2 linked regions of the Homo sapiens genome follow. Changing the gene in region 2 together with the main gene of any one other region gives a genetic interaction. Each region holds a gene or a part of one and is shown on either strand. Other genes may lie near its edges.

The links. Genes that interact genetically often act in the same process or in processes that back each other up.
Region 1: of OTUB1 (region 2) and NMRAL1, changing one suppresses a phenotype caused by changing the other (phenotypic suppression), as found in Homo sapiens cells (one study listed by BioGRID).

Annotation. Positions count from the first base shown.
Region 1 is NC_000016.10:4,471,620-4,479,311, forward strand, and holds the start of NMRAL1 (nmrA-like family domain-containing protein 1), read right to left. Parts: upstream 3,007-7,692; 5' UTR 2,935-3,006; exon of another isoform or gene 2,791-2,934; intron 2,548-2,790; 5' UTR 2,514-2,547; coding exon 2,474-2,513; intron 1-2,473. UniProt on the Homo sapiens protein: Redox sensor protein. Undergoes restructuring and subcellular redistribution in response to changes in intracellular NADPH/NADP(+) levels.
Region 2 is NC_000011.10:63,989,438-63,996,456, reverse strand, and holds part of OTUB1 (ubiquitin thioesterase OTUB1), read right to left. Parts: intron 1-7,019. UniProt on the Homo sapiens protein: Hydrolase that can specifically remove 'Lys-48'-linked conjugated ubiquitin from proteins and plays an important regulatory role at the level of protein turnover by preventing degradation.

The DNA of each region.
Region 1 (7,692 bases), on a different chromosome or scaffold from region 2:
AAAAAAAAAAAAAAAAAAAAATTCTTTATTATATGTATATTTTACCTCATAATTAAAAATAATCTATAAACAAATACTGAATTCTAGCTAATGTTATGCATGCTTTAGTATGGAAGGGCGGTGTACACATATCTGCAATTTACACAGAAATGCATCAAAAATAAGGACTGAGGCCGGGCACAGTAGCTCATAGCTGTAATCTAAGCACTTTGGGAGGGTAAGGGGGATGGGTTTTGCTTGAGGCCAGGAGTTTGAGACCAGCCTAGGCAGCAGGGTGAGACCCAGTCTCTACAAAAAATTAAAAAATCAGCTGGGCCTGTTAGCGCTCATCTGAAGTCCCAGCTACTCAGGCGAATGAGTCAGGAGGATTGCTTGAGGCTTGGAAGTCAAAGCTGTAGTGAGTGATGATTGAGCCACTGCACTCCAGCCTGGGCAACAGAGCAAGACCCTGACTCAGAAAAAAGTGTACACCAATGTTCCATGGCAGCATTATTCATAATAGCCAAAAAGTGGAAATAAATCAAGTATCCATCCACTGACGAATGGACAAACAGAATATAGTCTATCCATACGGTGGAATATTACTCAGCCATAAAAATAAGTAAAGCTGTCAGGAGTTCGAGACCAGCCTGACCAACATGGTGAAACCCCGTCTCTACTAAAAAATACAAAATTAGCTGGGTGTGGTGGTGCACACCTGTAATCCCAGCTACTTGGGAGGCTGAGGCAGGAGAATTGCTTGAACCCGGGAGGCAGAGGTTGCAGCGAGCAGAGATCACACCATTGCACTCCAGCCTGGGCAACAAGAGAGAAACTCTGTCTTAAAAATAAAAAAGTAAAGTTGGCCGGGCGCGGTGGCTCAAGCCTCTAATCCCAGCACTTTAGGAAGCTGAAGTGGGCAGATCACCTGAGGTCAGGAGTTTGAGACCAGCCTGGCCACATGGCAAAACCCCATCTCTATTAAAAATACAAAAATTAGCCAGGCATGGTGGCTCACGCCTGTAGTCCCTGCTACTCAGGAGGGTGAGACAGGAGAATCGCTTGAACCCGAGTGGCAGAAGTTGCAGTGAGCAGAGATCACGCCACTGCACTGCTGCCTGGGCAACAGAGCGGGACTCTGTCTCAAAAAAAAAAAAAAAAAGAGTAAAGCCCGGACACACACTACAACATGAACAAACCTTGAAAACATGCTAACTGAAGAAGCCAGAGAGAAAAGGCTACATATTATGATTTTATTCATATGAAATGTCCCGAATAGACAAATCCATAGAAACCAAAAGTAGATTGGAGCTTTCTAGGGGTTGGCTGGGAGGAGTAAGAATGGGGAGTAACTGTTCACGGGTTCATGGAGTTCTTTTTTTTTTTTTTTTTTTTGAGATCAGGTCTCACTCTGTTGCCCAGGCTGGAGTGCAGTGGCACAATCAGGTCACTGCAGCCTTGACCTGCTGGACTCAGGTGATCCTCCCACCTCAACCTCCTAGGTAGCTATAGGTGCATGACACCACGCCCCACTAATTTTTGTATTTTTTTGTAGAGACGAGATTTTGCCCTGTTGTTCAGGCTGGTCTCAAACACCTCAGCTCAAGCGATCTGCCCATTTGGTCCAACTAAAGTGCTGGGATTACAGGGTTGAGCCACTGCACCTGGGCCAGAGTTTCTTTTTGGAGTGATGGAAATTTTCTAAAATTGATTGTGGTGATGGTTGTACAATTCTATGAATACACTAGAAACCAGTGAGTTGCACACTTTAAACAGGTAGATTGTATAGTACGTGAATTATATCTCAATAAAGCTGTTAGAGATATTAAATATGTATAAATAAGAAAAAATAGGAATGAAATAATATGCTATCATTTGAAAAAATGATAACATGTTATCTACTCTGGCAGGATATTCAAGAAACTTGGTAACAGCAATAGATGAGGTGGAAGAGGAGGCTAGGAAGAAGATTTAATTTTGGTATCATGTTCAAGTACTCCTATTCAAATAAGTTAAGTAACTCATTTTTTTTTAATTTGGAAAGCAGGTCTGGCGTGGTGGTTCATGCCTGTAATACCTGCACTTTGGGAGGCCGAGGCGGGTCATCACCTGAGGTCAGGAGTTTGAGACCAGCCTGACCAATATGATGAAACCCCGTCTCTACTAAAAATACAAAAATTAGCCGGGCGTGGTGGCATGCCCTTGTAATCCCAGCTACTCGGGAGGCTGAGACAGGAGAATCGCTTCAACCCGGGAGGCAAAGGTTGCAATGAGCCGAGATCGTGCCATCGCACTGCAGCCTGGGTGACAGAGCAAAACTCCGTCCAAAAAAAAAAAAATTGGAAAGCAATTTGGGCCTCGTTCCTGCGACCACAGCCCCAACCTGGGTCGGGGGTCCCAGTGACCTTACCCCTCCCTGCAGACCCCAGGACGGGCGGTCTTCAGGGCTAGGCGCCCTGGCTCTGCAAGGGCCCCAGTCTGGGGTTTGGCTCACCTGTGCCTCCGAAAACCACCACCAGTTTCTTGTCCACCATGAGGACGAGAATGGGACGAATCCGGTCCAGAGATCTGGGGGTAATGGGAGGCGTGGAGTTGGGGGTGGGGCCGGGGTTCCCGCCAGGAGCGACAAAGGACACCCCCATTGTCTATGCATCGAGTATGTGTCGAAGGGGGCGGCTGGGCCCGGAGCGGCAAGACGCCTGTCCCGAGATATCGGGGTCCCGCGACCCACCTCGTGTCCCTTGGGCCCGATCCCCTCCTCCTTCCCGCCTCCCCCGGTTCCAGTCACCCGCCCCCCGGCCCGGGTCCCACCGGCTGGAGTGACCTCCTCGCCGCGGCCTGGGCGGGACAAGTTCCAGGAGCCCGGGACCCCGATTCTGCGGCCGAGTCCACTGCAGAGGCGGGGATGGAGCTGCGCGCTAGGCGCCAACTCCCTCCCCGCAGCTCCGGCCCCACCTGGCAGAGCGCCGCTCACGGAAGCCCAGCGTCGGAGGACCCCTGGCTGCAGCCGCCAATCCCGACGTGTCGGCCGAAACCCCTCCTCCGGCGCAGTTGGCTCCTCCTGGATCCCGCGGGACTCGGCGTCGTTTCCGGGTTTGCCCGCCCCAGGCACGTGCACAGTGAGTTTGTGTAAATCCAGTTAGACCAAAATGAGCGAGGTGGAGAGCCTCTTAACCGGATGCTACGGGTGATGACTGGGAGGAGGAGAAAAATTACCTCTTTATCTTGCATGAACATCTTAATTTTCAGGTATTGGGCGTCAGGCAAAGATAATTAAAGCTATGTCCATGAGTCTTATCCCTTGAGGCCTTGTCCGCTTGATATTTTCTTTGCCTAACTCACTTTTAAAATTTTATTATTTTTATTTTTTTGAGACAGTGTCTTGGTCCGTCGCCCAGGCTGGTGTGCAGTGGCGCGATCTCGGCTTACTGCAACCTCCGCCCCCCGGGTTCAAGAGATTCTCCTGCCTCAGCCTCCCGAGTAGCTGGGATTACAAGCATGTGCCACCAAGCCCGGCTAATTTTTGTATTTTTTAGTAGAGACGGGGTTTCACCAGGTTGACCAGGCAGGTCTCGAACTCCTGACTTAAAGTGATCCACCCACCTCAGCCTCCCAAAGTGCTGGGAGTACAGGTGGGAGCCACCGTGCCCAGCCCTAACTCACTTCTGAAGTTGCTGCTACTTGCACTGATTTCAGTTTTTTTTTGTTTTTGTTTTTTGTTTTCAAGGTGGAGTCTTGCTCTGTGGCCCAGGCTGGAGTGCAGTGGTGGTGCGATCTTGGCTCACTGCAACTTCCGCCTCTTGGGTTCAAGTGATTCTCCTGCCTCAGTTTCCTGAGTAGCTGGGATTACAGGCAGGAGCCACCATGCCCGGCTAAAATTTTTTTGTATTTTTGGTAGAGACGGGGTTTCAACATGCTGGCCAGGCTGGTCTCGAACTGCTGACCTCAAGTGATCTTCCCGCCTCAGGCTCCCAAAGTGCTGGGATTACAGACATGAGCCACCACACCCGGCCCACGATTTCAGTAATTTCTTTGTGTTCAGTAAAACTAAAAAATGACTCTGGGCTGGGTGCGGTGGCCTGTAATTGCAGTGATTTGGGAGGCCGAGGCGGGTGGATCACCTGAGCTCAGGAGTTCGAGACCAGCCTGGCCAACATGGTGAAACCCCCGTCTCTACTAAAAATACAAAAATTAGCCGGGCGTGGTGGCAGGCGCTTGTAATCCCAGCTATTCGGGAGGTTAAGGCAGGAGAATCGCTTGAACCCGGGAGAAGGGGGTTGCAGTGAGCCGAGATCACGTCATTGCACTCCAGCCTGGGCGACGAGCAAAACTCGGTCTCAAAAAAAGAAAAATCATTCTGTCATTCTGGCCGCTGTTTGAAGAATGCGAATAATGCAACAGGGAGATCAGATACAAGACTGGTAACCGAGGTGTCAGAGTTGAGACTCAGTTTCGCAGATTGCATTGGCAAGTGACCAAGTGGGTGGTGCCACGGTTGACAACCCTATTTCTTACATCACTGAGTGGATGTACAAGGATTAAACCACACTGGGGAAGAAAAGTGCTCAACCCTGAGGCACCCTCACACACCTCGGCTCTTGTGAACACTAGTGTTCCTGCCGAAGCACGCCTACTTACCCCGCTGAGCAGAGCCTGAGCCTGCAACCTCCAGAGACCTGGGGAAAGCCACATACTCCGCTTCCCGCCCCCGGCAAGGGCGTGTCAGCTACAAGGGGCGTGTCATCTCTAGGCCCCGCCCCGCGCTGCGTGCCCACGTTGCGCCGGCCTCGCGCCAGTCCGCTGGGCTGCAGGGACTGCGGCGCCTGAGGGAGTCGCTGACGGGCACGCTGACTGGAGGCTGGCGGACAGGCGACAGCGACCTGCGGCAGGTGAGCTGTCCGCGCCCTCCCGGGGCCTTCCTTCCGCCCGGCTTCTCGGACCGCGCTGCGTCCTTCGCGGGCCCTGCCTCGGTCCAGGCCTTCGGACCTGGGCTTGGCCGGGCCACAGCCCTTTGGGTCCCCTGCGCCGGTCTGAGGGGAGACCCGGCCGGGGGCGGCCGGAAGCTGGGTGAGGCCGGGCAGAAGGACGAAGAAGGGCGTGGAGGGGCTGTCAGGGGAGGGCGAAACCGCGGACGCCGCTCTCCAGAAGTCGTCTCCCCGGGGGCGCGGGGAGGCCTGAATGGCTCTCTTTGGCGTCCCCGTTGGGCCCACCCTCTCCCAGCGTCACGGCTATGCTGGGCGAGGTGACCCCCGGGGTCGTAGCTGGGGGCGTCGGCGGTGCAGACAGGGGATGCCGGCAGAGATTGGAGCCCGGCTTGGCTGTTTCCCGGGCTGTTGGCATTGACCGGGGCTCTGCCCTTCCTCTAATGCCCTTATCTCTATAGGAAGTGCCCCTTGAGTGGGTGTCGTGACTTCACGAGTGAACCCTGGTACGCCCTGGAGCAGAGTCGGACTGGGAGGGATCAAGTGTGGGGGCAGCCGGTTAGTCCGGACGCGGGTTTACCTATTACTTTCTGAGCGCAGTGCTCTGGGTGGATTAATTGCCCTGCAAAAGCTGCCGGGACCTCCTTGCAGTCTTTGCACGAGGCCTGCCTGTGTCATGCCATTTAAATCGCGTCTGGGCCGGGTCGGTGGCTCACGCCTGTAATTCCAGCACTTTGGGAGGCCAGGGCGGGCGGATTGCTTGAGGTCAGGAGTCCGAGACCAGCCTGGCCAACATAGTGAAACCCCGTCTCTACTAAAAATACAAAAATCAGCCGGGCATGGTAACGTGAGCCTGTAGCTCCAGCTACTTAGGAGGCTGAGGCAGGAGAATCGCTTGAACCCGGGAGGCAGAGGTTGCAGTGAGCCGAGATCACGCCATTGCACTCCAGCCTGGGCGACAGAGCAAGACTCCATCTAAAAAAAAAAAAAAAAAAAAAAAAAATCGCTTCTGATGAGCCGGTTGTCGTGGCCTGTGGCTGTCCATCCTTACGTACTGTGTTTTGTTGATGGCGCTACAAACCAGACAAGGTGGAGTGTGATTGAAGAAAGAAACGCTGGCCGGTGCAGTGGCTCACTCCTGTAATCCCAGCACTTTGGGAGGCCGAGGCAGGCGGATCACCTGAGGTCAGGAGTTCGAGATCAGCCTGGCCAACATGGTGAAACCCCGTCTCTACTAAAAATACAAAAAAGTTAAACGGGCGGGGTGGCGCGTGTCTGTAATCCCAGCTACTGGGGAGTTTGAGGTTGGAGGATCACTTGAGCCCACGAAGTGGAGATTGCAGTGAGCTGAGATCGCATCACTGCACTCCAGCCTGGGTGACAGAGTGAGACCCTGTCTCAAAAAAGAAAAAAATAAATTATCACAAGACAAAATTTGTGCTTATCAGGAGTTCACAGTTAAGACATATATAAGCTTACTTGGTGAAATTAGAAAAAGTTATCAGATAAAACATTCAGGTTTAAACACTGGTGAGGGTGTGGGAATTTGTGGAGCCTTGGAAACACACTCATTGAATGACCTCATCTACCTGGGGATGTGAAGAGGGAAATCCTGTGATTCCTCCATTGTCTGACTTGATTTCCTTTTTTCCTTGGCTGTGGCAACATGTTGAAGTGCTGTGAGTCACCAAAAGGGGGAACGTGAGCAACTCTAGAAATGCCAGTGCCAGTGAGTTACAGACAATAAAGCATTGACCGCCTTTAGCTCACCCCTCATCAAGTCTGTTGAAAACTTGTAAAATTGGACAGCTAGAGCTACCTTGATTTTTTGGTTTCCTTTTAACAGCTGACTCTCTTCACAGGACAGTTGGGCTCTACATCAGGATTGCACCCAAAACTGGAATATCACTCCTCCAGGAGGAAGATATATTTGAAAATTAGAATTGTGGGCCCGGTGCAGTGGCTCATGCTTGTGATCCCAGCACTTTGGGAGGCCGAGATGGGCGGATCACCTGAGGTCGGGAGATAGAGACCAGCCTGACCAACATGGAAAAACCCCATCTCTACTAAGAAAAAAATAATAATAATACAAAAATTAGCTGGGCATGGTGGTGTGTGCCTGTAATCCGAGCTACTTGGGAGGCCGAGGCAGGAGAATCACTTGAACCTGGGAGGCAGAGGTTGCGATGAGCCAAGATTGTGCCACTGCATTCCAGCCTGGGCAACAGGAGCAAAACTGCATCTCAAAAAAAAAAAAAAGAAAGAAAGAAAATTAGAATTGTGTATTTCACTGTAAAATTTGAAATTCAGCTTTAACTCCTTGGAAAGGAAAGAGATGAAAAACTTGACCTAGACTGGGTGCGGTGGCTCACGCCTGTAATCCCAGCACTTTGGGAGACCAAGGCGGGTGGATCACCTGAGGTCAGGAGTTCGAGACCAGCCTGGCTAACATTGTGAAACCCCGTCTCTACTAAAAATACAAAAATTAGCCTTGCAAAAAGTAGCCTGTAATCCCAGCTACTCGGGAGGCTGAGCAAGGAGAATTGCTTGAACCTGGGAGGCAGAGGTTTCAGTGAGCCAAGATCATGCCATTGCACTCCAGCCTGGGCGACAAGAGCAAAACTTCATCTCAAAGAAAAAAAAATTCTATCAGAGTGAACAATAAGTAGGATGCTAGCACATACCTGTAATCTCAGCTACTTGGGAGGCTGAGGCAGGAAGTTAATACTTGATGAGCCTAAGTTTTTGGTGTCTTTGGATGCTGCTTGTCGATCTAAGGGGTTTCCAAACG
Region 2 (7,019 bases):
CAAAGGTCACACTCCAAAGGTGGCAACTGAGCTCCCAGCAGCCACCTGCCACCCTGGGTCCCTGAAACAGGCTGCTGAATGTGGCAATGGGAGCGGCCCACTGCCCAGAGTCCTCCCAAAAGACGGCAGGAAGCTGGGCACTTAAGGACAAACTAGTTGCATGGGTCACTAAAGTTCTGCGGGGCCTACAGGACTGTACAACAACAGGTGAGTGAATGTCCTTGAGCAATGCGTTTCCTCCAGTCTTTCAGCCCAAGAGAACTTCAGGGCAAGCAAGTCAGGGCCAGGGTGGAGTGCTGGCCTCCACGCCTCAACCAGGTGGCTGGGGCCCTCTGCACAGCCCAGCTCAGCCCCGCTCCCGCCACACTGAGAAGAGTTCCCCCACCTCTAAGCCTTGCCCGCAGCCCTCCTGGGGCTAGAAACAGCCTCCCTCCTCTACTTGTTTTTTTGAGACAGAGTTTTGCTCTTGTTGCCCAGGCTGGAGTGCAGTGGCGCGATCTCGGCTCACTGCAACCTACACCTCCCGGGTTCAAACGATTCCCCTGCCTCAGCCTCCCAAGTAGCTGGGATTACAGGTGCCCACCCACCACGCACACTTCACCTGGCAAGCACACTTCACTCCCCTGGCCTGGGCACCCTCCCCTCTCCCCTACCCATCTTGCTCCTACCCCCAGCTGATGACCTTGTCTTTTTTCCTCAGCCCCCACCAGCACATCTGCCTTTGGCCTCCTCCCACAATCCTCAGAGGATCTGTTCCAGCTGCCACCTAAGCTGCCTCTCCACTCCACACTAGCCCACCCCCACCCTCAGGCTCAAGCACATCATTCCAAGCTGGGCGCCATGGCTCACACCTATAATCCCAACATTTTGGGAGGCCAAGGTGGGAGGACGCTTAAGCCTAGGAGTTCGAGACCAGCCTGGGCAACACAGTGAGACCCCCGTCTCTCTAAAAAAAATAAGTGGCTGGGCGCGATGGCTCACGCTTGTAATCGCAGCACTTTGGGAGGCTGAGGTGGTTGGATCACCTGAGGTCGGGAGTTCGAGACCAGCATGACCAACATGGCGAAACTCCATCTCTACTGAAAATATAAAATTAGCTCGGCATGGTGGTGCATGCCTGTAATCCCAGCTACTCGGGAGGCTGAAGCAGGAGAATCGCTTGAACCCGGGAAGCAGAGGTTGCAGTGAGCCGAGATTGCGCCATCGCACTCCAGCCTGGGCAACAGAGCAAAACTCCATCTTGAAAAATAAGCAAGTGAGCTGCACATGGTGGTGCATCCTGTGGTCCCAGCCACTCGAGAGGCTGAGGTCGGAGGACTGTGTGGGCCCAGGAGGTCGAGGCTACAGTGAGCTGTGATGGCACCACTACACTCTAGCGTGGGTGACAGAGTGCGTGAGACCCTATCTCAAAAAAAAAAGACATCATCCTAGGAAGTACCCCCATCATCAATTTTTCCCACCCTACTGGTTTAGACCCAACAGCATATACACATTCAGCTACTTCTTTAAAAGGAAGGGAATCCTGGACTTTACGTTTCTGTCTGGCTACCCTTCAATTTCTCTGCTTTCTTTACAGCAAAACTCCTCATGAAGCTGTCCGTGCTGCCTCCACCTCTTTTCTCCCTCGGGAGGCTTTTGCTCTAGCCAAGGTCAGCTGAACGCCCTCAATCAGAGGGGGCAAACCCAGCGCCCCACCCCCACTGGCCCCTTAGCAGAACTGAGGCCACTGGCTGTGGCCCTGCCTAGATGCCTCCTTCCCTGGGCTGGCGCCCCCACCCTCTCCTTGTCTTCCTCCTGCCTCCAAGGCCACTCCTCATCTCTCTAAGCTCTGAGGGTCAGGGATGCCACCAAACCATACAGCACCCTTCGAGACATGGTGTGTCACCTGCAAGAAAACAGTCACTGAGGCTGGGTGTGGTGGCTCACGCCTATAATCCCAGCACTTTGGGAGGCTGAGGCAGGCAGATATCGAGGTCAAGAGATCAAGACCATCCTGGCCAACATGGTGAAACCCCGTCTCTACTAAAAATACAAAAATTAACTGGGCGTGGTGGCACACACCTGTAGTTCCAGCTACTCTGGAGGCTGAGGCAAGAGAATCACTTGAACCCAGGAGGTGGAGATTGCAGTGAGCCGAGATCGCTCCACTGCACTCCAGCCTGGGCAACAAAGGGAGACTCCGTTTCAAAAAAGGAAAAAGGAAAACAGTCACTGCACACTTAGCCACTGTGCCTGCCATGTGACCACGGGCATGAGGGCTGTCTCCCATGTGCCTACCCCGCCCTGCTCAGGCCTGGGACAGCTTCCACTTTTCTTTTTTTTTTCTTTTCTGAGACAGGGCTTTCTATGTCACCTGGGCTGGAGTGCAGTGGCAAGATCACGGCTCACTGCAGCATCAACCTACCAGGCTCAAGCAATTCTCCCACCTCAGATTTCAGAGTAGCTGGAACTACAGGTGCACACCGCCACACCCATTTAATTGTTGTATTTTTTGTAGAGACGGGATTTCACCATATTGCCCAGGCTGGTCTCGAACTCCTGGGCTCATGTGATCTGCCTGCCACGGCCTCCCAAAGTGCCGCACCCGGCCAGCTTCCTCTTTGAAACTACACTCACTCTCATGGCCAGGTACAGTGGCTCACACCTGTAATCCCAGTGTTTTGGGAGGCCAAGGGGGGAGGATCAAGTTGAAGGCTAGCCTGGGCAACACAACAAGACCTCATCTCTACAAAAATGTAAATTATACTTGCTCTCTTGACGACATCAGTCTCAAGCAATTTTTTTTTTTTTTTTTTGAGACAGTCTCGCTCTGTCGTCCAGGCTGGAGTGCAGTAGCGCGATCTCGGTTCACTGCAACCTCCGCCTTCCGGGTTCAAGCAATTCTCCTGTCTCAGCCTCCTGAGTAGCTGGGACTACAGGCGCGCGCCACTATGCCCGGCTAATTTTTTTGTATTTTTAGTAGAGATGGGGTTTCACCATGTTGGCCAGGCTGGTTTTGAACTCCTGCCCTCAAGTGATCCACCCACCTTGGCCTCCCAAAGTGCTAGGATTACAGGCATGAGCCATTGCCCCTAGCCAAAGTCTCAAGGATTTAAATAGCCCCAAGTGTGAATCTCAACTCTCAACTCCAATTACGATCCTCCTATCTACCAGCCTCACCACACCTCCTCTGAACTGTCCAACAGGCATTTCCACTGAGTGCAGCTGAGATCAACCTCCGAACAACTGCTCCTCCCCGAGGCTGCCCCACCTCAGTCACCCACAGCACCCAAAGCCTTCCAGTCGCTGCCGACTCCATCACCATATCCATCCCTTCAATATGTCTGGTATCCAACTGCTTCTTACTCCTCACCTCTACCACCCGCTGCCCGCCTCCAGCAGATTTTACTGCACAAGTCTCCTGGCAGTGTCCCTGCCTCCCCTTCACCCTCTGGAGTTTATTCTCACCCCAGCAAGAGAATGGCCAGGGTCGGCTTGGCGTGATGGCCCAGGCCTGTAATCCCAGCACTTTGGGAGGCCAAAGTGGGTGGATCATTTGAGGTCAGGAGTTCAAGACCAGCCTAGCCAATATGGTGAAACCCCGCCTCTACTAAAAATACAAAAATTAGCCAGGCATGGTGGTGGGCATCTGTAATCCCAGCACTTTGGGAGGCCAAAGTGGGTGGATCATTTGAGGTCAGGAGTTCAAGACCAGCCTAGCCAATATGGTGAAACCCCACCTCTACTAAAAATACAAAAATTAGCCAGGCATGGTGGCGAGCATCTGTAATCCCAGCTACTCAGGAGGCTGAGGCAGGAGAATTGCTTGAACCCGGGAGGTGGAGGTTGCAGTGAGCTGAGATGGTGCCATTGCACTCCAGTGCACTCCAGCCTGGGTGACAGGGCAACACTCTCTCTCAAAAAAAAAGAAAAGTGACCAGAGTCACCTGCCAGATGCACCCTATCTCCATCTCCCTCAGAGTCCTTTCTCTCGCCACAACACCCCACCCCGCCCCGCCCCGCTCAGTTCCCCAGCCCCAACCCCTCATTCTCCACCAGCCACACTGGCCTCCATGCTGGCCTCAAACCATCCAGGTGCCCTCTCGCCTCGGGCCTGGGTGGGCACTGCTCTCGGACGCCTGTGACTCGCTCCCCGGTCTTTTTCTGTTCATTACTCAAATACCACCTCATCAGCAAGGCCTTCACCAAGCCCTGTTTAAAATGGCAAATGCTCCCACTCCCAATCCCCTCTTTTTTTTTTTTGAGGTGGAGTTTTGCTCTGGTCACTCAGGCTGGAGTGCAGTGGCACAATCTCGGCTCACCGCAACCTCCACTTCCCAGGTTCAAGAGATTCTGCTGCCTCAGCCTAAGTAGCTGGGATTACAGGGATGCGCCACCACACCCGGCTAATTTTGTATTTTTAGTAGAGACGAGGTTTCACCATGTTAGTCATGCTGGTCTCGAACTCCTGACCTCAGGTGATCCACCTGCCTCAGCCTCCCAGTGTGCTGGGATTACAGGCGTGAGCCACCACGCCCGGCCCCGATCCCCTTTTCATTTTTCTCCACAGCACTCACCGCCTTCTGATACCCCACATGTCCCAGAGCCCTCTTTGGCTTATCATGTCTTTCCACCCTGAACTGTAAGTTTTGTGAGGGCAGGACTTTGTCTGCATGGCTCTATCTTCAGTACCTAGAACAGCGCCTGGACCACAGTCCGTTCTCAATAAACGTTAAATGAGTAGCACACCAGGACCACAAAGAACCCAAATCACCACTGCTACTGTAGCAGCCACCATGGCCATTGTGAGCACACTCTCTGTGCCAGGGATTTGGCACAGGGCGAATAAACGTCATCCTAATTGATCCTCACAAGAGCCCATTTAGAGAGAGAGGAGCTCTCTCTGCTTGGGCTCTGCTGCCACAGCTGTCTCTGCCCAGGGAGAAAAGGTGGGCTCAGGCACAGCATACAGAATGCGGGTGCTGGGGGCACAGAGAGGCCTTTTAGACAGCATGCTCTGGACATCCAAATGTTTGATGACTCCGTGGGAAGAACCTGGGGCCCAGCCTGTCCTGTCCACTTTACCAGGGTGGTCTAGCATGAGCGGCAGGCCTTGGCATGGGGGGTCCCACTGGAGGACACTGACATAAGAGGAATGAATGAATGAAGCTCACCCCCTGTATGGGGAGAGGAGCAGCTTTGTAACCCGCTGCTTACAACCGCCCGTAACATCTCCTTCAACCCTCACAATTGCCCTGTGAGGCAGACAATGTCCCCGCCCAGAGAGAACAGGGGATCCAAGAGCTTCAGGGTGTTGCCCGAGATCACACAGCTCAAAGTGGTGAGGCCAGGACTGGAACCCAGGCCCATCAGGCTCCACAGCCAGTGCCTTCATCTCTCCACAGGCACCCTGAGGAAATCTAGCTCCCTGAGGAGGGGGCCTCAGTAGATCACAGTGCACAGATCTCACACAGCTGGATCTGGCCTGCAGGTGTGTTTGGCCCACACATTTAAAATTTGAATTAGCTGCCAACTGTTAGAAGTCAGGAGCTGTGGTTACCTCTGGCTTCTCTTGGAAAAACAGATCTGGAGACAATGGTATGGACACTCCCATTTCCCCCAGGGGCCTCTGCTCCCTATTAGTGTCTGGCTGATACTGAGCTGTGCTGCCCTCCTTGTTCACCATCTGACTTCCTGGCCACCTTCAATCACCTGGGTTACCTACCTGGCCACAGAGGCCTCCCCTACCAGTAGAGGACTCTAAGCATCTGTCATCTTCCAGGGGAAGAGAAACATTTACTAAACACCTACACTGAGCCTACCAGATACTGTTTCCACACACCCATTGTCACATTTATTTATTTATTTATTTATTTATTTTTTTATTTTTTTAAGAGACAGGTCTCACTGTCACCCAGGCTGGAGTGCAGTGGTACAATCATGGCTCAACTTCTTGGGCTCAAGTGATCCTCCAACCGCAGCCTCTTGAGTAGCTGGGACTATAGACATGTGCTACCACACCCAGTAATTTTTTGATTTGGAGAGACAAGGTCTCACTATGTTGCCTGGGTTGGTCTTGAACTCCTGGGCTCAAGCGATCCTCTGGCCTCAGCCTCCCAAAGTGCTAGGATTCCAGGCTTGAGCCACCATGCCTGGCCCCATTTCACATGTCATCCTCCCAGCTCACAGACCTAGAAAGTGGGTGGTGAAGTTTGCCTCCGTTTGAGTGATGCAGCAGGGCCCTTTGAGGAAATCTGTGGCCCCTTGACCCCACTGCTGCCTGCCTCTCCACAAAGATCCAGGAGGCAAGCTGTGGGAAACAGCCCTCTGGCAACCCTCCTACCCCACTGAGCACCAGCCTGGTCAGCCCCCGTATGGGCACCGAGATCATCAGCTCCTGCCCAGCCTGCACCTCCCTCAATCTCACAATCGCCCTATGGGAAGATGCTTTTTTTTTTTTTTTGAGACGGAGTCTCACTCTGTCGCCCAGGCTGGAGTGCAGTAGCGCGATCTCGGCTCACTGCAACCTCCGCCTCCCGGGTTCACACCATTCTCCTGCCTCAGCCTCTCCGAGTAGCTGGGACTACAGGTGCCCACCACCACGCCTGGCTAATTTTTTTGTATTTTTAGTAGAGACGGGGTTTCACCGTGGTCTCGATCTCCTGACCTCGTGATCCGCCCGCCTCAGCCTGCCAAAGTGCTGGGATTACAAGTGTAAGCCACCGCGCCAGGCCTTTTTTTTTTTTTTTTTTGAGACGGAGTCTTACTCCGTCGCTCAGGCTAGAGTACAGTGCGGGATCTTGCCTCACTGCAACCTCCGCCTCCCAGATGCAAGCAATTCTCCTGCCTCAGCCTTCCCAATAGCTGGAACTACACGCGCGCACCACCACTCCCAGCTAATTTTTGTATTTTTAGTACAGATGGGGTTTCGCCATGTTGACCAGGCTGGTCTCGAACTCCTGACCTCAGGTGATCTGCCCGCCTCAACCTCCCAAAGTGCTGGGATTACAGGCGTGAGCCACCGTGCCCGGCCAGAAGAT